Linked DNA regions of Homo sapiens: regions 2, 3, 4, 5, 6 and 7 are each reported to be linked to region 1. Evidence: microRNA targets listed by miRTarBase, many of them from high-throughput screens and not tested one by one. Region 1 holds a microRNA gene; each other region holds the end of a gene's coding sequence. Distances are between the middles of the regions.

The links. The annotated mature microRNA hsa-miR-29c-3p reads UAGCACCAUUUGAAAUCGGUUA and lies in region 1 at 2,031-2,052, shown strand. An mRNA with a match to its seed (bases 2 to 7 or 8) in the 3' UTR can be bound and repressed. Matches are read on the target gene's strand: a 7mer-m8 pairs with bases 2 to 8, a 7mer-A1 pairs with bases 2 to 7 and ends in A, and an 8mer does both.
Region 2: miRTarBase lists COL21A1 as a target of hsa-miR-29c-3p. Seed matches in the 3' UTR shown: 7mer-m8 at 459-465 and 8mer at 1,047-1,054.
Region 3: the mRNA of EEIG2 is a reported target of hsa-miR-29c-3p. Seed matches in the 3' UTR shown: 7mer-m8 at 662-668.
Region 4: the mRNA of TMEM132A is a reported target of hsa-miR-29c-3p. Seed matches in the 3' UTR shown: 7mer-m8 at 755-761.
Region 5: the mRNA of HUWE1 is a reported target of hsa-miR-29c-3p. The part of its 3' UTR that is shown has no 7-base or 8-base seed match.
Region 6: the mRNA of NASP is a reported target of hsa-miR-29c-3p. Seed matches in the 3' UTR shown: 8mer at 783-790 and 7mer-m8 at 842-848.
Region 7: the mRNA of QTMAN is a reported target of hsa-miR-29c-3p. The part of its 3' UTR that is shown has no 7-base or 8-base seed match.

The regions. Positions count from the first base shown.
Region 1 is chr1:207,800,698-207,803,916 of GRCh38, reverse strand. It overlaps MIR29C (microRNA 29c), which reads left to right and starts at 1,978; the gene lies at 1,978-2,065. It overlaps MIR29B2CHG (MIR29B2 and MIR29C host gene), which reads left to right. Exons shown (of 6, transcript NR_135299.1): 6 at 1,255-2,399. MIR29B2 (microRNA 29b-2) reads left to right here and starts at 1,394; the gene lies at 1,394-1,474.
Region 2 is chr6:56,054,866-56,058,084 of GRCh38, reverse strand. It overlaps COL21A1 (collagen type XXI alpha 1 chain), which reads left to right. Exons shown (of 30, transcript NM_030820.4): 30 at 241-1,495. The coding sequence ends at 428. Among named protein-coding and RNA genes, the nearest start is that of BMP5, 180 kb to the right of the region's middle.
Region 3 is chr1:108,634,620-108,637,619 of GRCh38, reverse strand. EEIG2 (EEIG family member 2) reads right to left here. Exons shown (of 11, transcript NM_001010883.3): 11 at 1-2,512. The coding sequence ends at 2,470. Among named protein-coding and RNA genes, the nearest start is that of HENMT1, 25 kb to the left of the region's middle.
Region 4 is chr11:60,936,240-60,939,458 of GRCh38, forward strand. TMEM132A (transmembrane protein 132A) reads left to right here. Exons shown (of 11, transcript NM_178031.3): 11 at 1-920. The coding sequence ends at 668. It overlaps SLC15A3 (solute carrier family 15 member 3), which reads right to left. Exons shown (of 8, transcript NM_016582.3): 7 at 1,631-1,786; 8 at 845-1,134. The coding sequence ends at 980. Among named protein-coding and RNA genes, the nearest start is that of TMEM132A, 13 kb to the left of the region's middle.
Region 5 is chrX:53,530,428-53,533,646 of GRCh38, forward strand. HUWE1 (HECT, UBA and WWE domain containing E3 ubiquitin protein ligase 1) reads right to left here. Exons shown (of 84, transcript NM_031407.7): 84 at 1,669-2,984. The coding sequence ends at 2,882. Among named protein-coding and RNA genes, the nearest start is that of MIR98, 24 kb to the right of the region's middle.
Region 6 is chr1:45,617,648-45,620,647 of GRCh38, forward strand. It overlaps NASP (nuclear autoantigenic sperm protein), which reads left to right. Exons shown (of 15, transcript NM_002482.4): 15 at 414-1,246. The coding sequence ends at 494. It overlaps CCDC17 (coiled-coil domain containing 17), which reads right to left. Exons shown (of 13, transcript NM_001114938.3): 13 at 2,397-2,786. The coding sequence ends at 2,628. Among named protein-coding and RNA genes, the nearest start is that of CCDC17, 4.9 kb to the right of the region's middle.
Region 7 is chr2:143,944,409-143,947,627 of GRCh38, reverse strand. It overlaps QTMAN (queuosine-tRNA mannosyltransferase), which reads left to right. Exons shown (of 12, transcript NM_001376312.2): 12 at 493-3,219. The coding sequence ends at 576. All of the region lies in intron 2 of QTMAN-AS1 (QTMAN antisense RNA 1), which reads right to left. Among named protein-coding and RNA genes, the nearest start is that of QTMAN-AS1, 9.0 kb to the right of the region's middle.

The DNA.
Region 1 (3,219 bases):
CCTAGCGCTGGTGTCAGAATCGCTTGTTGCAGGTTCATCTTCAGTGTCTTTCCCACAGCCACATGCTGGGGAAAGACGGCAAAGGCGCTAGAGGAGCAGGAGAACAAAGCAAGCTGCCCCAGACCACCCGGCTTTCGCAGAACCCAGATGATGCTCCTGTCTCCCCCTAAGTATAACGTGTTATGTAGTCAGTATGATCCCATTCAGTGCAGAAGTATCGCCTAGGAATTTCCTGCCCCACCCACCCTGTTTTGTTCTTAATGAAGTTCAAGAACAAAATGAGATGATAGTCAAGTTATGGAGCAGGCTGCAGTGGATACAAGGGCAGAAACACAGTCTTTGGAGTTAGACCTGGGATCTGCATTGATTGGTTGTGTGACTGCAGACAAGTTATTTAGCCTCATTAAGGATGAATTTCTTCGCAAAAATTGGAATAATACCTGCCCCATACGACTGTTGTGAGAATTAAACACCGCAACTTTTGATGTTCAAATTCTATTTCTTCTCCTTCTAGCAACACATACTGTTAGTGCCAGGAACCATAAAAATTATAAGGCTGTATCTAGAGGCCTGAAAGGAAGCTAAAATATACAGTGTCTACTCTGTCTCTTTTCTCTTGGTTATGGTATCAGAGGAAATACACATATTTTCTTAGCTTCAAACCACCAAAAAAGATGATGCAGTAAGGAGATGGGAAATCTAATTTGGAATACAGTGTGCAAATCTTATTTTCAAGCAGACTTTGAAAATAAAACTCAATTCTTACGTTAGAGGATTATCTGCTTAATACAATTATAGGGTACCAGTTTTTGAAGTCACATCGGGGTTAAATAAGATTGCAGGTTCATGGGGTCATATTTGAATGTTCTGATACTTACATATGGGGTGGGAAGGAGGAATGCATGCTTTTCTCAAGTTAAGACACATAAAAGAGTTGTCCTGGCCCAGGTGAGACTCGCCTTTGTGTAGCAGCTGGAGCTTCATTCCACAGGCAGATAGGGTGCTTGTGTCCTGATGAAGTAAGAGAATATATCTGGAAACACTTTGTGTACTGTGAAATACTATACAAATGCAGGGCAGTACAAATGTAAATATTAATGTATTTTAGTAATAATTTTAGCTTTTATTTCATCATATATAATAATTTGTAGTGACTGGTGTGAAGTTAAATAGAATTAACCTAGAATTAATGAGTTTTGTATTGCTCTCATCTATTTGAAGCATCAGCTGTGCCTTTCATGTTGCCTTGTGCAGCCCTGTGTAACCTCCTCTGTGCCTTTCCCATGGAGCACTGTGTCATATCACAAGTAGAACTACAAGAAGATATTTCTCCTCAGGGCAGAGGCTGGGTCTTCCGATTGAATCTCCCTTCTTTCTTCATTGAGATCCTCTTCTTCTGGAAGCTGGTTTCACATGGTGGCTTAGATTTTTCCATCTTTGTATCTAGCACCATTTGAAATCAGTGTTTTAGGAGTAAGAATTGCAGCACAGCCAAGGGTGGACTGCAGAGGAACTGCTGCTCATGGAACTGGCTCCTCTCCTCTTGCCACTTGAGTCTGTTCGAGAAGTCCAGGGAAGAACTTGAAGAGCAAAATACACTCTTGAGTTTGTTGGGTTTTGGGAGAGGTGACAGTAGAGAAGGGGGTTGTGTTTAAAATAAACACAGTGGCTTGAGCAGGGGCAGAGGTTGTGATGCTATTTCTGTTGACTCCTAGCAGCCATCACCAGCATGAATGTGTTCGTAGGGCCTTTGAGTGTGGCGATTGTCATATTCTGTTGGATAACAATGTATTGGGTGTCGATTGTCATGGGGCAGGGGAGAGGGCAGTACACCTGGAGGACCATTTTGTCCACATCGACACCATCAGTCTGCTCTTAGAGGATGCCCTGGAGTATTCGGCGTTGATTGCGGGGCACCCGAAATCAGACTTGCCACCTGGACTGTCGAGGTGCAGACCCTGGGAGCACCACTGGCCCATCTCTTACACAGGCTGACCGATTTCTCCTGGTGTTCAGAGTCTGTTTTTGTCTAGCACCATTTGAAATCGGTTATGATGTAGGGGGAAAAGCAGCAGCCTCGAAGCCTCATGCCAACTCTGGGCAGCAGCAGCCTGTGGTTTCCTGGAAGATGGATGGGCAGAGAATAGGGAAGGAAGATCATGCTTTTCCCTACTAACTTCTGTAACTGCATGTATGATACATTATTGCAGAGGTAAGAGATAGTTTAATGGATTTTTAAAAACAAATTACTATAATTTATCTGATGTTCTCTAGTTGCATTTTGCTGAAATGTAGTGCTGTTCTAAATTCTGTAAATTGATTGCTGTTGAATTATCTTTCTGTTGAGAAGAGTCTATTCATGCATCCTGACCTTAATAAATACTATGTTCAGTTTATCATGTCTGTGTTTTTCATCTATTATTTCCCATTCATAATTCTGTGATGATAAGAAGTGGGTCCTGAAAAATTAATTGGCTGTGCAGATCTTGCCTACTTCATAAAGAATTTGAAGTAGGTTACAGCCAGCCAGACATTAAAAATGAAGCCCATTAAGAGAAGAATGAAATTCTATGAGCCAAGAAATAAAATGAGAGAAAAGATTAGGGAAGAGAAGAAATGTTGAAGATCAAGGCTGAGGGATGCTCCCTACTGAATGGGAAAACTCCTTAGTTCCACATGGGCTGTAGACACAGCCCTTCTGCCAGCAACTGTTCCTGCAAGGAACTGGTGCTCAACTAAACATACTGTCACATGGTTCCTTGAAGGGGCACAGCACTGATTTCACTTGCATTATAAAAGATTGAGTGGTGCTTTTGACTATTAGTTTATGTCAACACTTCAAAACAAGATGAGCCAGTTTTTTTTTGTTTTTTTTTTTTGTTTGTTTGTTTGTTTTAGACGGAGTCTCACCCTGTCACCCAGGCTGGAGTGCAATGGCACTGTCCCCGCTCACTGCAACCTCCGCCTCCCGGGTTCAAGCAATTCTGCCTCAGCCTTCCGAGTAGCTGGGATTACAGGCGTGGCACCTCCACGCCCAGCTAATTTCTGTATTTTGTAGTAGAGACGGGGTTTCATCATGTTGGCCAGGCTTGTCTCGAACTGCTGACCCCGTGATCCACCCACCTCAGCCTCCCAAAGTGCTGGGATTACAGGCGTGAACCACCTCGCCTGGCCCAGTGAGCCAGTTTTGTAAAGCTATTCAGAGATTAGCCAGATTTG
Region 2 (3,219 bases), not on the chromosome of region 1:
TACTATGTTAATATGCTTAGCCTAGTTTTCAAAAATTACTGATAACTTTAACTTTTGGATGGTTCTTTTCAAAGCAGAAGACATGTAGAATTATCAAGAAAATGCCTCTACTATATAATTAGTGCAAATATATAAAATATTCAAGGTTTTTTTTTTCAGTTTAAGTTTCTTGCAGAATTGGCTATTTCATTATAAAAAACTAAAGTCCTCTGTTTACGTCTTGCCAATGTCCCATCTTAGGTCCAGAGGGCCCTCCTGGAATAAGCAAAGAAGGTCCTCCAGGAGACCCAGGTCTCCCTGGCAAAGATGGAGACCATGGAAAACCTGGAATCCAAGGGCAACCAGGCCCCCCAGGCATCTGCGACCCATCACTATGTTTTAGTGTAATTGCCAGAAGAGATCCGTTCAGAAAAGGACCAAACTATTAGTGTCTGATGCCTCATTCAGCAGCCTAGGCATGGTGCTTTTTCTGTGGTCTTTTGCATCTCAGGAAGATAACCAACAGTAATCCCTTGAAAAGAAACTTAAGTACCTCGGTGTTTTTATTTTTTTTTTCTTATGGAAAAAAATATAAAAGATCACATATACTGATTTTAAAGGCTCCTCAGTCATTTGGAGCCCTTGGATTAGCAGCATTAATTAAATCTCAAGGGTTTCTTGTAAAGTCCATTTATGTTAATCAAAGTTGAATATAAAAATCCACCATTGCCTGTTAGCCAGTCAGTTTTAGTCACTGTGAAATATTTCACATTCAGCCTCCATGCAGTAGAGATTTGAGTTTAATTTCATGTCCATGTGACTTTCATGTTTCCTATCTCATAGCTCATGCTACTACATAAGCCAAAACATGTATCTCATCATTGGAAGTAAGATCAGGGCTGATATTCACCTGGGATAGACAGTATTGGTGAACTACTCATTTACTACAGTGTCTCAGCCTTGATAAGGGGCAGTGGATTGCCTGTTGTTCGGTGTTGTGAATAGCACCTCTGAATAAGATTAGAGTGTTTCTTAATTCATTTCAAACTCTAAAATTAGATTAATGGTGGTGCTAAGAAAGAGTATTAATTACTTTGGGAATGGTCAAAATTAACATTAAAAACATTTTAGACAAAAAGTTTCATTGTACATTCAAAGAAAATGTAAGTTTGGAAGTACTAAAAGACTATTTTATACTTGTTGATTAATCGGAATGTTTGTTGTATGCCTTCATTTTCCATTTCACTTATATGTGTATGTCCATATATGTTAATTTTCATTGTAGCAAAGCTAATGGAAATAAAGCTAATGCTCTAGTTGAAAGAAAAGGAAAACTCCTGAAATCCTAGAATGTCTTGTTATTTTTAGCTGACTGTAAAATATTATGAACAGTCTTTGTGTATTGTGCTTAATGCTTTTGTAAGAAACAGAATTTGAAATATTTCATCCTTGTCATGCTCAAAATTTTGTTACATGCTTGTTATTCAGAGTATAATAAAGTTTTGTACAGGCCTGATTACAATGTCTTTTTTTATACCTAATTTTAACTGATTGTTGAGTATGGTATGTATATTGCATGGTCATTTATTCAATGGATATAATTTATGAAATCATTCAGCCTATTCTTAAAAAATGTGTTCACCTGAAATAAGAAATTACAAATTGAATTGGTGTGCTACACACCTGAACAGTTGAAACACTTGCTTCCTAGCACAGTCATGGCTGTTGCCCAGTGTTTAACTTTATTGTCGTGCAAATTCTATTATTTTGATGAGGACTTTGGAGGGGACTAAAATTTATGATGTTTAGTGGCTGAATGAGCATAAGGCTTGTTCTGGTGTTTTATCTCCAGTAAAGGCCCAGGTATCTGCTTAAGCCAACAAACCTATCACCCCTGCTTTAATTATGACATTTGCTTCTAAGAGCTGGTAAAGAATCAGAATAAAGCCATTTGGTATCATTGATTTATTCATCCAACAGTACTCACCACATGGATAGGTTCGGTGCCTGGGATACAATGGCAATATAGTTAGAATTTGGCCTGAGGGAACACATGTATAACGAGACACAGGTAAGTGTACAGGTGATTCCAATATATTAATTCTAAGAATGGAGAAAATGCAATTGAAATGTAAAAGATGATGTTATGGACTGCATTGTATGCCCCCGATTCATATATGGAAGCCCTTACCCCCAATGTGACTATATTTGAATATAGGGCTTTCAGGAGGTAACCAAGATAAATGAGGTCATAAGGGTGGAGTCCTAATCCCATAGAATTGGTGGCTTTATAAGAAGAGGAAGAGGTTGCTCTCCCCTACTACCCTCCCTCCCTTCATCTGCTTCATCTACCTCATGGCCTTCTAGCTCTCACATCCAGGGAAGACTATGTGAGTACATTGTGAAAGGTGACTCTCTGCAACCTGGAAAAGGGACCTCACCAGAACCCGACTATACTGGCACCCTAATTTCGAACTTCCAGCCTTCAGAACTGTATGAACAAAAATTTCTGTTGCTTAAGCCAGCAAGTCAATGATATTTTGTTATGGCATTCCAAGCAGAGTAGTGCAGATTATAGTAGGCTAGGAGGTATTGGCATAACTAAGTCATGTAAAGATAATGAAAATGAGCAAAGGGTGGAGGGTTAGAAAAAGCATGAAGAATTCCAAGAACAACAAAATCTATGGAATGTAAACTATATTTACTTTCAGTATTTCTGCTTTAAAATTTGGCATCTCAGGATGAAATATTTCCATAATTTAGCATGGCATACATTGTGTCATAGTTTTGCCTTGGAGAAATTTAAGACTAACTCATAACACGCTGATTTTCAAGAATGAATAGGTGAATAATCTTGCTCTGCAAGTACATTTTTGCAACATAACTATGTTACGTGCTCAGCACCATGTTACGTGAAAGGCCTTTTAGTGTGGTTGCTGAGAGCATGGCTTCTGTCCTGAGATTTCCTGCATCAAAATTCCTACGTTTTGTTTCTAGCTGCGAGGCTTCAGAAAATTTATTTACATCTTTGTACTTAAATTCTTTCATATGATAAGTTGAGGATATTAATAATACTTACTTCATAGTATTAAAAAGATTAAATGAGAGAAAACAAAAGAAATTCATCAGTGAAATAAAGTCATACAATTTACTAGAACTAGACAGAAAATATGGGGTTACCAAATCTTTTTTTTTTTCTTTTTTTTGAGACAGTTTCGCTCTTGTTGCCCAGGCTGGAGT
Region 3 (3,000 bases), 99 Mb from region 1:
AACACTGGGTGATTTGAAATTTGACTTTAATATTTAAAAATAAATTTATTAATAATCTAAATTTTCAAGTCAAATTTTCTAAACTCAAAACATAAACAGAAGTGAACTTGTTATTTAATAAACAGATTTTTTCAACAGCTATATGGTTAAGATGTTCTTAACCATGCTCTCAGAAAAGGACAATCAGAAAGTAAGGCAGACACTTAGGCAACCCTTAGCGAGTATTTTGAAAGGACTGCACTGAAATTTGAACACAAAGTGTGCCAATGGAACACAAAATAGAAAATGGATCCAGACTTTTGCTGACTACAGAAGACATAGACATTAGTTCTTTTTTCTTCCTTATCAGTGTTTCTATTTATTAAAATATTTGTTATATTTACTACTACATAAATCAAGGTGTATCTGATGGCTGCTAAGATTATAAAGGCATGATTTTTATGCTTTTCAAAATCTCTCTACTTTTTAAAAAGAATTCTGTACCATTTAAAATACTGAGAACCAGTCTTGTATAGAGAGGTGTCGGACCAAGGGCAGCCAAGGATGAGTAAGATGGGCATCACCCTGATTGCAGCACCTCTTACGTGTCTGATGAATGTCCTCACTGAACCCCACTTACAATCTAGTTTTATCATTTTCAAAACTGCAAAATCATTTGCACAGCACCAATAAAAATATAGCCTAGAAATAATATTTTGAAAATAGAAAAATATGTTTTTAAAAAATGTCATAATAAATATCTCTCTAAATAATATCTTCATATCTCTATAAAAAACTTTCTTTGATTTTTCCCATAATATATAATGAACGGATCAGTTCACATGAAGACATAATGCAAGTCTTTACCACTTAAGTCCCTTGGTTAGGCTAAAATGTTCAGGTCAATGTTTTATTCTTAAAAATAAATCTTAAAAAATAAAAAGTATAACTCAGAACATTCTCTCTCTCAGAGTCTCTCTACATTCAAAATATAAAACAGGGTATCATTTTTTAAAAACTTCCAGAATCTCTTTGTTGGAATAGTATTGGATTAATGCAGAATACTCAATCCTTGAAATATAAAAAACAGCAACATAAGTTCTAATATTAACTATTCAAAATTTTCCAAACCTTTAAATTTGGATATTAAAATAATATAATTTCCTCCTTATTTTTGCCAACGTGAAAACACCTAGACCAAAGTCATTCTATTCTGACATATTGTCTTTCTTGGATATGACTTTGAAAGTAAGAATTGGGGAATTACTGGTTATACAGATTCTACATTTTTCTTCACTAATAGTGATTCCAAGAAAGTTTAGATCTTTCCACATGGAAACCGTCATGTAAGAACAGAAAAACTCTAAGGTTTATCTGCTGTGCTGCTCAACTGGATCCAGACCAGGTATTCTTATTTTAAAAGCTATATTTGATAGATGTTATATTCTACTCTTGCTTCAAAACAAATCACTTTCGACACAGTGGGGAAGAAAACAGTACCTACAGAGAGCTAAAATGGAAACCTAGTAGTCTGCATCAGTCATGGCAAGCAGCTGTCATGCTGCTACCCACCACCACTTCGGAAAACTGTTAGCCTCAGATAAGTCTGAATTTACATAGAAAAGGCTTCTCTGTTTCTGACCATATTACAATTCTCCTCTTTTTCTACATTTTGACTCCTGAAACCAGCAGATCTTAATATTCAATGAGTTAAGATAGCTCTTCTGTTAGGGTGCCCAACACAGTAAGTGTTAAACTTATTTTGAGTCTTTTATGTAGTGCTTGGGGGTGGTTCTGCAGCTCATCTAATATTAATGACAATTAACAATATATACTGCATAACGGCATTACATCCATTCACGTATCTCTGACTTAAATGCACTTGTTATTTCATTTATGACTGATACACTGAGAATTATGAATAAGCACATCACATGTTTAAATTGTAGTCTAACATTTTCCCAAAGCATGAACACCCACACTTTATACAATGCTGTAGGTAGTGTAATAGGGAAGATTTCCAGAACAGGAATTACAACTATCTTGACAAAATCTATAGGGTTTAAGTTATATTCATGTACTGTCTCTCAAACTAAAAAAACCAAACCATAGAGCCCAAATCTATTGAGCCTCTTGATCACAGATTTTTACACTTGAATCCTAAAATGATACTCCGATGTATATAATGCTGTTTTCTCCGCTGGGGTGTTCTGAAAGAAAAAGCAGGCTTTTCATTATGATGTGCAGTGACCACAGAAGCCAGGTGCTTCCAAGGCACACAGTGGCACAGTGCCTGGAGACTGCCATGTAGATGTTCCCCTTTGGTGGCTGGTACAGGATGGCGGTGGGTCCTTCCAGAGAAGAAACCAGCATTGGCTTTCCTCTTGATAGTTGAGGTTCATTTTCTATTAAGTGCTTGAATAAAATGCCTTGATACATCAACTACTCACATCTTAAATCCACAAGGAAATGTTTTCACCGACTTGACTTCTAGCGTTTGATCACAACTTGTTCATAAGCTCCAGACCCCACCCTAAAACAGCAGTGGAAAAAAACTTCAAAATTTTGAGCTGCAGTGTTTGAAACTGTTCCAAGTAACCTTACCCCTGGAGAGATGGGGCACTGGGTATTTTTCTACTAGATTTGATTTCCATAACGTTTAAAGGCATCACGGATAGAAACTATGTGAAATATTAAATGTTTATCATTAATACATTGGATTAGCCTAGATCCTGATTCTCTCACACTTATTCCCACAATAATCTATTAGAATTCCCCAATTCTTGACCTATCGACAAATGGTGGCAAGAAATGCTCTTCAAACATGTTTATCTATTCATTCTAAAATAGGTCTCATCCAAGAGCATATGTTGACTCTGGCAGTGCATCAGGACTTGCACTGAGTTAATGATGATGGTCTTCAGCTGTCATAATATTGTGGCGTTTTCATGGCAGGGTCTCATTCTGTTGCCCAGATGGAAGTGCAGTGGCATGACTGAAGCTCACTGCAACCAGAACTCC
Region 4 (3,219 bases), not on the chromosome of region 1:
GGGGCAACACAGGTGTGAGGGGCAAGTTTGAGCGGGCAGAGGAGGAGGCCAGGAAGGAGGAGACCGAAGCCAGGGAGGAGGAGGAGGAAGAGGAGGAGGAGATGGTCCCTGCCCCTCAGCATGTCACTGAGCTAGAGCTGGGCATGTACGCCCTGCTGGGAGTCTTCTGCGTGGCCATCTTCATCTTCTTGGTCAATGGTGTGGTCTTCGTCCTGCGCTATCAGCGCAAAGAACCTCCCGACAGTGCCACTGACCCCACCTCCCCCCAGCCCCACAACTGGGTCTGGCTGGGCACTGACCAGGAGGAACTGAGCCGCCAGCTGGACCGGCAGTCCCCTGGCCCGCCCAAGGGGGAGGGGAGCTGCCCCTGTGAGAGTGGGGGAGGAGGGGAGGCCCCTACCCTGGCCCCTGGCCCTCCTGGGGGCACCACCAGCTCCTCAAGCACCCTGGCCCGAAAGGAGGCTGGGGGGCGGCGGAAGCGAGTAGAGTTTGTGACATTTGCGCCAGCCCCTCCAGCCCAGTCACCTGAGGAGCCTGTAGGGGCCCCTGCTGTGCAGTCCATCCTTGTGGCAGGCGAGGAGGACATCCGCTGGGTGTGTGAGGACATGGGGCTGAAGGACCCTGAGGAGCTTCGCAACTACATGGAGAGGATCCGGGGCAGCTCCTGACCCTCCACAGCCACCTGGTCAGCCACCAGCTGGGGCAACGAGGGTGGAGGTCCCACTGAGCCTCTCGCCTGCCCCCGCCACTCGTCTGGTGCTTGTTGATCCAAGTCCCCTGCCTGGTCCCCCACAAGGACTCCCATCCAGGCCCCCTCTGCCCTGCCCCTTGTCATGGACCATGGTCGTGAGGAAGGGCTCATGCCCCTTATTTATGGGAACCATTTCATTCTAACAGAATAAACCGAGAAGGAAACCAGAGCTGGGACTGCTGCCGTCTGTCCGGTAGAGTGAAGCAAGGGGGCTGGAATAGGGCCTGTTCAGCCCCTGTCCCTGCTGAAACGGCTGTGGGAGGCTGGGCCCTGGGACGCCCTCTCATAGCGTCCAGCGATCCAGACAAATAGGAGAGCCGTGACGGCCTGAATGCCAGCCAGCAGGAAGAAGTAGAGGTCCATCCGGCAATTGTTGATGTTCCCTGGGGAAAGGAGGGGTTAGATTTGGGTCAGGACAGGGATCCTCTGTCTTGCGCCCTGTGCCTGCCGTGTCCTAGCCCTGGGGCTGGCAACTGAGGCCATGTGGGCAGTGGTGGGATCTGAAGACACTGGACAGATACCCACTAATGTTTGACTTCCTGAAGATCTCCAGGGGTGTCTACAATTCCTCTTCAGCTATTCAGAAGGGGGCGTGAAATATAAACACCATGAGAAAGGTAACCCTTCAGCCAGAGATGGCAGAGTTCCAGAAGCAGAAAGGAGCCTTGGAGGTCCACTAAGTTCAACACTTGGGGAAAGAAAGGCCCAAGGAGGGAGGCCACGCTGTGGGTGACTGGCCAAGCCCGGGCTAGAACCCCATTCTCCCAAGTCTAGCCCTCTACTTGCTTCTCCCCAGAGTCAAAGCACTTTAGCAGTTGCCACCTCCTTTCCAAGCCTCCCTCCATCCATGTCCCACTCCTGGGGAGGCCCCATACTCACCAAAGTCCTTGGGGCAGTGCAGCCAGCCCCCGGGCAAGGACAGCAGTGCCACTAGGCTGGAGCCCAACAGTGAGCCCACCCCCGACAGGCAGAAGAAGATGCCCATGATGGCGCCCTGCATGGAGCGCGGGGCCTCTGAGTAGGCAAACTCCAGGCCTGCAGAGGGGGAGCAGAGACGATCTCAGGGGCTGGTGCAGGCGCAGAGAACAGGCCCAGGCCCCTGCTTGCTGCCCCTGACCCTGCCCCCACCAAGCCACCCTCCAGGCTTCCCCTGGATGCCTGTCCACTCAGTGGCAATGACAGCACCCATGCATCAATGCCGCCTTCCCCTCTGCCCTGCTCACCTGCCTCCTGGCTGAACCCCTGCACCGGGGTACTCCATGCGCTGCCCCAATAGCTCTGTCTCCCCTCCTCCCCTTCCTGCCAGGTCTATCATTTCAGTGACAGCACCATCTTTACCTCCTCTCTCTCCCCACCCTCTCTGCCCACCTTCAACGTCATCGTCAAATTGTTTTGATACAGCCTCTGAAATCTATTCTAAATATATGTCCTTCTCTCTATTCCCTCTGCCCTGGGTCCAACCCCAGCCCTGGTCACTTTCTGCAAATGCCTCTTAAACTCCCCTGACTCCTGTCCTCCTCACACAGCCAGGAGCATCAGTCTAAAGGACCTCGGATGGGGTCCTTTCCCGGCCAAAACCCCCTGGAGAGGAGGGGCGCTGTTGCCTTCAGGAGAAATCCCAAGGTGCAGGCTCAGCGCACAAAGCCCTTCGACACTTCGGCTCCCTGCACCTCCCATGCCTCTCCAGCCCTATCCCCCACGCTTCCCAAAGGCTTGGGCCTTTGCTTATGCTGTTCCCTCTGCCTGTAAGACCGCTCCTCCTACCCACTCACCTGCCCGCCTCCTCTCCATGCTTAAGGGCTCCCACTGCACTCTGCCCTGACTTCCACAGCACTCCACTGGCTCACTGTTTGCCTGACTCTCTCCCCATCTGAGTGAGCTCCCAGGGTCAGTCTTTTCTTTATGTCTGACCCAGCCTAGCCCTGGGCCCGCAGCTGAGGAAGCCCTTGCTTTTTTGCTGACTGAAGGGCCTGCCCCAGCCTTGCAGCTCTAGCTCCCAGCCCGGGGAAGGGGGTTGGGAGGGTGGGGAGCGAAGGACATAGAAATCCATTACTATGACCCAGAGTACTGTGTGCTATGATAGAGAGATGAACACGGGGCGGGAAGGGAGGACCCCTTCTGCCCAAGGACCTTGGTATTTAGGCTCAGAATTGAAGGGGATATTGGAGTTCACCTTCAGTCTAAGGTAGAGGGAACAGCAACTTCAAAGACACAGAGGGTGGAGAACCTGGCACCAGGGGAATACGTGGAGAGCTGGTGTGGGAAGTTTCTTGCTCGCCTCCAAATCCCCAGTGCCTGTCACATAGGGGCTGACTTGAACCAGGTGCTAATTATAGACCCCCGTTGGGTGAATGAGCCCTGGTCAGAAAACACTGCCTTCCTCCATGCAGATGGGCCCTGGGGGCTGCATCCCTGGGGTACCTGACTTTGAGGTGCCACCGGGCAGAGCCCATCACTGGTGCAGGAGC
Region 5 (3,219 bases), not on the chromosome of region 1:
TTTAAGTTCCAATACTTTTTTTTTTTTAGACGGGGTCTCGCTGTCTCCCAGGCCGGAGTGCAATGGCGTGATCATAGCTCATTGCAGCCTCGATTTTTGGGGCTCAAGCGATCATCCCACCTCAGCTTCCCGAGTAGCTGGGACTACAGGTGTGTGCCACCATGCCTAGATTAAAAAAAAATTTCAGTAGAGAGGTCTTGCTATGTTGCCCAGGCTGGTCTTGAATTCCTGAGCTCAAGCAATCCTCCCACCTTGGCCTCTGAAAGCCTTGGGATTCCAAGCATGAGCCACCATGCCCTGCTCCAATAACTTTTGACTCCGTTAGCAAATGGTTTAAGTTATACCTTTTGTTTCCTGTTTTACTGAAATAGAAAACTGCAGAATAGCAGAACAGCACTAATAGTGATAATTAGCCACCTTATCTTTCAAGTGTGATGTTGGCTGTTGGTCTGAAACTACCTTATCAAGCTAGCTTTACCTTTAAAGGTTGCCAGGAATGGTTCTTGAATGTGAACAAATGCCTTGCCATCTACGGACAAAGATTTCTCAACTGACAATGAGGCGATTAATATTACACTACACATATCCCAGGGGCAAATCACACTTGATCATGCTCTATTTTTGTAGTATCCCACTGAATGAGATTTGCTTCCATTTCCCATAGGATTATTCCATCTGTACTCCCAGCTTCCACATCCAACCCCCAACCTCCAACCCAGGAACCCCCCCTTTACTTTCAAATTTAAATTACCTGCCAGACCTTTATTTCAAAGAACCAGTTAATCTTACTGCTTATTGACAAATTCTACTCTCTGCTTATTCTTTTTTTTTTTTTGAGACCGAGTCTCATTCGGTCACCCAGGCTGGAGTGCAATGGCGTGATCTCAGCTCACTGCAACCTTCGCCTCCCGGGTTCAAGCGATTCTCCTGCTTCAGCCTCCCAAAGTGCTGGGATTACAGGCGTGAGTCACGGAACCTGGCTGGGACTGGCGCGGTGGCTAGGACTGCCAGTAGCTGGGACTGCAGGCGCACGCCAGCACGCCTGGCTAATTTTTGTATTTTCAGTAGAGACGGGGTTTTGCCATTTTGGCCAGGCTGGTCTTGAACTCCTTATCTCAGGTGACCCACCCGCCTCAGCCTCCCAAGGTGCTGGGATTACAGGCGTGAGCCACCGCACCTGGTGTATCTCTTCCATTTTAAAGTCCTGCTGGACTCTAAGCAACTAAACTCCTCCTGCCTTGAATTATATGACCCCTCTCTGCTTAACCTCAACTCCTGCTCAGCTTTAGGCTGCAATCCAAGTGCACCGACGATGGAAAGCTTTCCCTGACTCTCCAGGCTAGGTCAGGCACTTCTATGTGCACTGAGACCCCTTTCTTCATCTGTCACAAAACTAATCACTGTCTTCGCCTCCCTACTAGAAGCTCAGTAACACGGATGGGGCAATTCCTCTGCCTTCTCAGTCATCAAAGCAGGGCCAGGCACAAAAGAGTGGGAACACTAAAAAAGGGGAAAATGGCTAGCAGCCTTGGCTCCAGGACCAGGGGATCAGGTTAAAGACACACCCTTTCTTTCCTAGACCCACACTTTGGGACAAGGTCAAGGGGACAATCTGTTCAGAGGTAGCACCCCAGGAAAATGAGAAAAACCACACAAGGCAAGCACCACTTGGGGTTATTTTTTCTAACTAAATTTTTATTAAATTATTTTTTCTTTGAAGGCTGGAACCATCGAAGTCCTTAGATCAGCTTTAAGCACTGGATGGAGTAAAAACCACAAGGGACTACAAGGTGATCTGTGAACAGACTGGCAGACAGATGACGAGAGAGGGAGTGACGACAACAAAAATAGACAAACAAAAATAATGGTCTTCTGGCGACCTAGTTAAATTACTCGCTTATTAAAATTTATTAGAAATAAACAAACATTAATGAAATAAAAATCTAAAACTGAGCCCCAGACTCAAGACTACTAGAAAGGCTCACCAAGTAAAACCCTCGGTTGGGTCAAGTGAGCTCTCTGAATGTTTTGTACAACCTGCTGCAGTTTGTTCCCCTTGAGCAAGGTGATGCTTTGTCCTGGGCTGCAATCTCTAACACCATCACCATCCCCAAGTGCAGCTCCCATTCTAAAAAAAAAAAACAGATGCCCCCACCCCCAATTCCTGGTGAACTGCTCATCTCTCCTGACTGCAGAAACTGACTCTGAAGGAGGAAGTTGCACCAGTGGTGGAGGCAGGTGGGCAAGCGGGTAGGGCAGGGATGGTTTCCTGGAGAATCCATCTTTTCTCCAGATGCCTAGCATGTGCTTAAGAGTTTTTTGTTTTTTTTTTTAAGTTTGAAAAAAACTCCATTGTGAAAAGTGAGTTATGAAGAGTGCTCTTTATTTGAAACCTCCACAACACAGACGCCAATCTTGTCTCGCATTGAATCATTAGCTGTGCACATCAACACATTCCAAGCACAAATTAAGAAATGCAAACAGAACAAAAAAATATATATATATATAATTTTTTCCCCTATCCAAAGGTTTCAAGTCTCAATGCAGCAAATCCTTCTGAACACAGAATCTGAGGAGCACACTGTTCAAACAGTTGGGACAGACAGGTCCCTGCAAAGGCTACTGCCTTTTTAAAACACATGGGGTGGGGATCATGGACGGCATGGAAAGGGGAGAGAAGGTGAGGAAACAGGCGGCGGGGAGAGAATGAGAAGAGGAACAGGTATGCGCTGGGGAAGATGGGGCAGCTGGGACACACACGGTGAGTTGGTGGATTTCATTTATTGGTTTTTGACAATTTCTTTCTGGTTCTTTTTTTAACTCCCCCCTCCCCAGGTCCAACAATGGTAAAAAAAACCCCACGGAGTTGGGCAGGGCCTTATTAGGCCAGCCCAAAGCCTTCAGAGCACTCCTGGATAGCCAACAGTAGCATGTGGCGGAGCTTCTCAAAGCTCTCATAGGCAGGCAGATCCAGCTGATTAAAACTAAGGAAAGAAGAAAGATCAGTTTGTGGTGAGGGATGACAGATAACCAAATCTGTGTGTTCCCATGGTGCCCACCAGCCCCTCCCCTCCCTGAAGAAACCAACTCCCTGCTTCTTGATGACTCCCAATCTTGTCTCAGCCCAGTATGTCCCCCTTTATCTGGCTCCCAAACTGGCCATCAGGCACCAAAACCAAAAATCTGACCCTGTCACTCCTCCTTAAACACCCTGGCCTC
Region 6 (3,000 bases), 160 Mb from region 1:
GGAAATCAGTCCTCTCAAGTGCATGCTCCCCACCTTGAGCCTGCTAACGATTGTTGAGTGCAGTCCTCACAGAAAACGGTACTTGTGCAGGAAAACAGTTTGGTTATGGGAGTATAGGATGACTCACTGACAAATGGAACCTGTATATTATAGGTCCCTCGATGAATATATGAGAAGGCACTTGATGGGCAAAACCATTAGGTCACTTCCTTCCACGTGATGATTATTGGCTCTGTCAGCCCCATTATCACAGAGTATTCAAGAAATACTTTGTGGTCACTGCCCTCTTAATATAGGGAGCAAAGCAGAGTTTGGGTGACTTGTATATGCTTCCTATGACTGAGGCCTCAGTTATATAAGACAGAATGGCTTAAACTAGGCTCACTCATGCCCAGGTTCTGTTTGTCTTCCAGGCTGAGAATCAGGCTGAAAGCCGGGCAGCAGTGGAGGGGACAGTGGAGGCTGGAGCTACAGTTGAAAGCACTGCATGTTAAGAGGGGGCACAGCCCTCCTCCCAAGGGAAAGTGTTTTTGTATATAATGTATTTTTTCACTTTTGGAGGATTCTTTTTGTATAACTTCAATAAAGATTGTAAGCAAAGGTTGAGGCTTTGATGGTTTTTTTCTTAATTATTGGCTGAATCTGCCTTGGAGCACTGCTGGTTTTATATATTAGCCAAAGGTTTTGTTCTGGCCTTCTGTACTGATCTGTGTTCCTGATCCTAATTCCTATCTGTCTAACGTGGAGGTGATCAAGTGTGGCTGTAGGCCTTTGTTTTCCAATGGTGCTATATTCTGTTTTCAAACACTTCACTGAACCCAGCTGTCTTGCAAACTTTCAGTGGTGCTGTCCCTGGATGGGGGCTACAAAAACAAGAATTGGTGAAGATCTTGCTCTTCAGTGCTGAAAATGGATGATGGACTTTGGCTGTGAGCCAGGCCTAGGATGGTTCTTGTCCTATATCCACCTAGTCTTCACCTGGGGCTATAATTCTGTCCTGGAAAAAGAACTCTGAAAACCTGGGTCAGGGGAATGATTCCTAAGGAAAACGGTCTGCATTTGAGCTCTGGTTTGAAAGTAGCCAAGGGGACTGATGGTGGACACTCCAGATGTGGTTGGAAGCATATGTGGGGAGGCTGGCTGGTTGAGTTTTGTTATTTTCTGTATAGAAAGGTTGAGATATATCAACACTTGGAATTGTTACCCATCTGCAGAATTGACTTCTCAAATAAAGATGCTAAAAATCTCCTTGTCTGGAATTATGTTTAAAGATCTTAAGTGGGGTCTTAGGCTGCTTTTTTGAGATGGGATCTTGCTCTTGTCGCCCAGGCTGGAGTGCAGTGGCGTGATCTCGGCTCACTGCAACCTCTGTCTCCTGGGTTCAAGAGATTATCCTGCCTCAGGAGGCTCCCAAGTAGCCAGCACTACAGGCTAATTTTTGTATTTTTGGTGGAGACGAGGTTTCACCATGTTGGCCAGGCTGGTCTCGAACTCCTGACCTAAAGTGATCTGCCCACTTTGGCCTCAGGAAGTGTTAGGATTACAGGCGTGAGCCACTTCACCTGACTGCCTGGAGCATTTCTGTGTGCGATAGAGGGTTTCAAAGGCAGAAACGAGCCCACCAGTCCAAGGATGCTGGTGGTGAGGGCACTAGTATTAATGTTAGACCTGTTGTGCTCTCACTGGTGTCTAGGGGTCAGGGCTCACTTGAGACTGAACTGCCTCTGACCTGACTCTAAGTACCAGTTAGGATCTGAATTCCAAACAATGCCTGCCCTATATCACCACCTCAATTTAGTAGTCATGACACCCATAGGGCTGCTTTTGTTGCACTGGAGGCAGAGGAAGCGATGGCCGGCCCCTAAATTCAACCCAATTTTTCAGACTAAGTAAGTTTTTCTGGGCTGGTCACAGTAACTCATGGTTGCAGGATCTCTGGCTTATCCTGGCTGTGGAGTTTCTTCCTGATGTTGCCCTTGCAGTATATGTTCCAGGTCCTGAGGCGCTTTGCCCCCTTTTCTTGGTCAGGACAGTCACGATGTAGTTTACTCCCAGGCACTTGACCTTCTCTGGTTGGCACTGGGATCTAGGGCTAGGCACAGTATCTAAGCTAGATCTCACATGTGACCCCTGGTTGGGGGAACAACCTTGGGCTGGGGACCTATCCCAGAATCAAAGTACATAAGGCCTCAGGAGCTTCCTGTTTATGGGTACATTGAGAACCTGAAAGGTTTCCTGGCAGAAATACTGAGGAAACGGATTTAAGTTTGGCAATAAAACTGGCTTTACCAAAAAAAGCAGTGGGAACTAGTGGGAATTTAAAGTTGCTTTAGTGGGAATTAATGCCCCCTAGTCACCTTTCGGAGAACTTCATAAGTGCCAGACAATATCACAAATACCTGACAAACTCATTTAATCCTTAATCTGTTTTACAAAAACAGAAGAGGTACAGAAAAGTTAAGGACTTAACGGGAGGTGGTAAAGCTGTGGTTGGAACTGGTTTTCTGTACTCAACTGCTAGATGCTTCTAGACCCAATGTCAGAACATGGAGTAGTAAACCTGTAGGTCTGGAAATAGGCCCCAGTCCTGTGCATGTTCAGATGCTCATCTCCACATTCACTTGGGTTCAGAAACTCACTGGGGGCAAGTCAGAACTGTGGTGAGGGCCCAAACCCTCATCTCTATCCTTGACTCCACTGAGGGGCTCTTCTGTACGAGGTGGGGGATCAGCAAAGCCAACTGCGGGGGTGAGGAAGCTGGCTTCCAGTGAAGATGTGCTGGACACCTGTGGAACAGGAGAAGGCAGGTTTTGAGCAAAAATGTAAAGGTTAAGCACACAGGTTTTGGAGTTAGTTAGGCTTCCTTAGAGTCTCACTTACTGTGAACCAAGTTAACCTGCTCCTGCTTTGATTTCCTTATCTGTTACATAGTAGGACTTCATAGAGATGTGAGGATCAAACAAGAAAGCATTGGTAATGACTGGCACACAGTGGTCAATA
Region 7 (3,219 bases), not on the chromosome of region 1:
ACTGGTATAATGAAATAATGAATATAAACCTGTTATAAATATGAAGCACTTTTTAAATTTCACATAATAGTAATGGCATTTATCTTTGTGTCTTCATCATTTAAAAGTAAAATTCACGGCAGAAACTTGTATGTACAGTGTTACGTGTCTTGTGTTTATATAAGTTAAAAGTTGGATGATGAACTTTCATCATCCAACTATGAATGGTTGTCATTCATAACATAAACCAAGAAATATGTGTGCAGCAGAATATACCCATTTGCAGAAAACAGTAGCCTTCTTCTCTGGTTGGAAATACAACGACACTTTAGACCAATCAGAAACTGAGATTTCCTGAGGTGATGAAACTCAAGAACCATTTACTTGGTGGCTTTTTGAAATGTAATTGACGTAAGTGATGCAAATTTGCAATATAAATTTTCAGCATACTTTCATCTTTTAGTCATTAATGCTCTTCACTTCTTTCTCTTCTCTCCCTCCTCCTCGTTGCAGGGTGAAATCGCTCCGTTTTCTTGGGCAGCCCTACATGGTAAATTCAGGTCTCTGCTTACAACAGAACCTAGGGAAGATTTGTGACAGATGGGGCTAAGTCACAAACTTGCAGCCTAAGGCAGAATCTGAAGAACTTTCCAGAGTGTGCCCATATTTACCTGATCAGAGAGAAAAGAAAATCTGCAGAGGAAGCTGAGCCTGGCTGCTTGTCATAGCTGACACAGAGCCATCTGCCACAAACCTGTGGCGGCTTCAGATCTCCAATCCCTGCCACCACCCCAACTCAAATTAAATACAGATTCCTAGAGACGTTATGATGGTTACACATGTCCTCGGCATCACATGTAGGAGACTGTTCAAAAAAAATATGTGGCCTGTTGTATAACCGCACTCATGTATCCCATATGTGGTGCCACATTGAATTTCCGGTTGAATCCGTTTTTATCCTTTGTACTGGATGACATGGTGCCTGAATTCTTTCTTTTCGCCGACACGATGGCAGCCAAACTGCAGCTTCAAACGCTCACACTTGGCTGGGTTTCTACCTAGGTTGCCAGGTTATCATCGGAGCCTTCTTGTGTCCTCAAAGGGCCACGAGGCCTGAAAGGAGGATCAGAATGCTTTGGGATTAATTGGGCAGCCATCGCAGAATTGTTTGTGGGCAAAGGGCTGCTTTAGCACTTTTCTTTTAGCAAATTAATGACTCTCAGGCACAGGGGGTTTTAAGTGAAGGTATTAATAAGAGGTCTGGCAGGTATTCCCATGATTCACAGAGTTACATTTGCATTTAATTAATCTTAAAGTTGCAAGATAAACAGCTGTAATTCGGACAAACATGACAAACACAGTGAAGCCAACTATCCCATAAAATGAACACTGACATACTTGTTTTAATTTTTTTCCCAGCGTAAAAATAGAAAAATCAAAATACTCCTAACAAAACCAGTGATTTTGATAGAAATATTTCTCCAATATACTTGCATCCACCTACAAATATAACCTTTTCAAGATAAATCGCTTATGATTTCAATAGTCAAACTGCTGTGTTTGTTGATGTAAAGATGTTTTGAATGGCTAGATGGTAAAATAAATTCTTAATAAAGTACCCACTGCAATTTTTAATTAGCATATTCATTTACATATAGATGTATACATCTACCTATGTGTTTCTCACTGAACGTTTTCCTTGTGACAGAGACAACAAATACAATTGTTTCTTTTCCGGATGAACAAGGATCTGTTTTGCAAATGTTTGTAAGATATTATGACATTTCCAAGATTTTCTTTGCATTCTGGAAAGCAGGAGGTAAACATTTGTAGTCATTAAGGTAAAGTCTGTTGATAAACCATCTTCTGTTTACTGACAGGTAAATTGTAACTTTCCCTAGCTTTTGAAATGAGTAACTTCTATACACCACAAAGTGAGGCACAGCCTGGGAAAGGTGGCTAGACAAGGGGCAAGCCAGGCTTTCTAGCTTCTGGAAGGATCGAGTGGCCTAGCAGGCATCTAAGATAAAGAAAGCAATGATTCGGAAGTCCAGTAGGGCCCATTTGACCGGTAGCAAAATCGAAAGCACGAAATAGATCAAGGTTAGGGAGCCAGACAAAGCCCTTGGAAGAGAGGCAGTATTGCAGATCGAAGCAAGCAGTTCAGAGTCTATGAGGCCTGGGAATTTAAAAGCAGGAAGAGTAAGAAGCAGAAACAAGAAGCTCCATCTGAACAGACTCCTCTCTCCAACCTTCATGAGACCCACAGTGTGTGATGGGCCACCACAGCACTGGCTTCTAGACTTTTACAGGGAAGCCAGTGAACAAATTACCTCGTCACCCAGAAAACAAAGAGCTCAGGAACTATTTTGGAAGTTCCTTCCAGTCTAAGACTATGGAACTCAGAATCTAGCAGGTGTGTTCCTTTGGATAGCAAAACTAAAGATATAAATATGAATAAGAAATTCTTTGCCACTTCTCCTGGGCAAGGTTATACTTTATGCCATCTACTGAGATAAACCAGATGAGTCAGTTTGCTTCTGTCAGTTGCTGTGTCACAGATGACATCTTCTCAAAATAATATTATCTCACAGCCAAGAAATAGCGCTTCGTTTACTGTGTTTTTCTATCCTGAAACTAAATGGGCTTACGCTTCATAGTGGCTAAGATACTCCACACACAACTAGTACCCATAGATCTTTTCTCACTGATAGGAAAAAAAAAAAAAAAGCATTAAACACCTTTCAGAGAGTACATCTGAAACATTTACGTATTTTCCTGATTTAGGCAAATATAATATTGAAAGTTACCTGTATGTGGGCATTTTTTTCTACACTCATAAATGCAAATCAAATTTTGCCATTAGCTGTGGCCAACATTCCTTCCAGGACAAAAGCTTACATTAGGCCGGGTGCGGTGGCGCACGCCTGTAATCCCAGCACTTTGGGAGGCCGAGACGGGTGGATCATGAGGTCAGGAGATCGAGACCATCCTGGCTAACACGGTGAAACCCCATCTCTACTAAAAATACAAAAAAAATTAGCCAGGCATGGTGGCGGGTGCCTGTAGTCCCAGCTACTGGGGAGGCTGAGGCAGGAGAATGGCGTGAACCCAGGAGGCGGAGCTTGCAGTGAGCCGAGATCGTGCCACTGCACTCCAGCCTGGGCGACAGAGCGAGACTCTGTCTCAAAAAATAAATAAATAAATAAATTTAAAATAAATTTTAAAAAAATTACATTA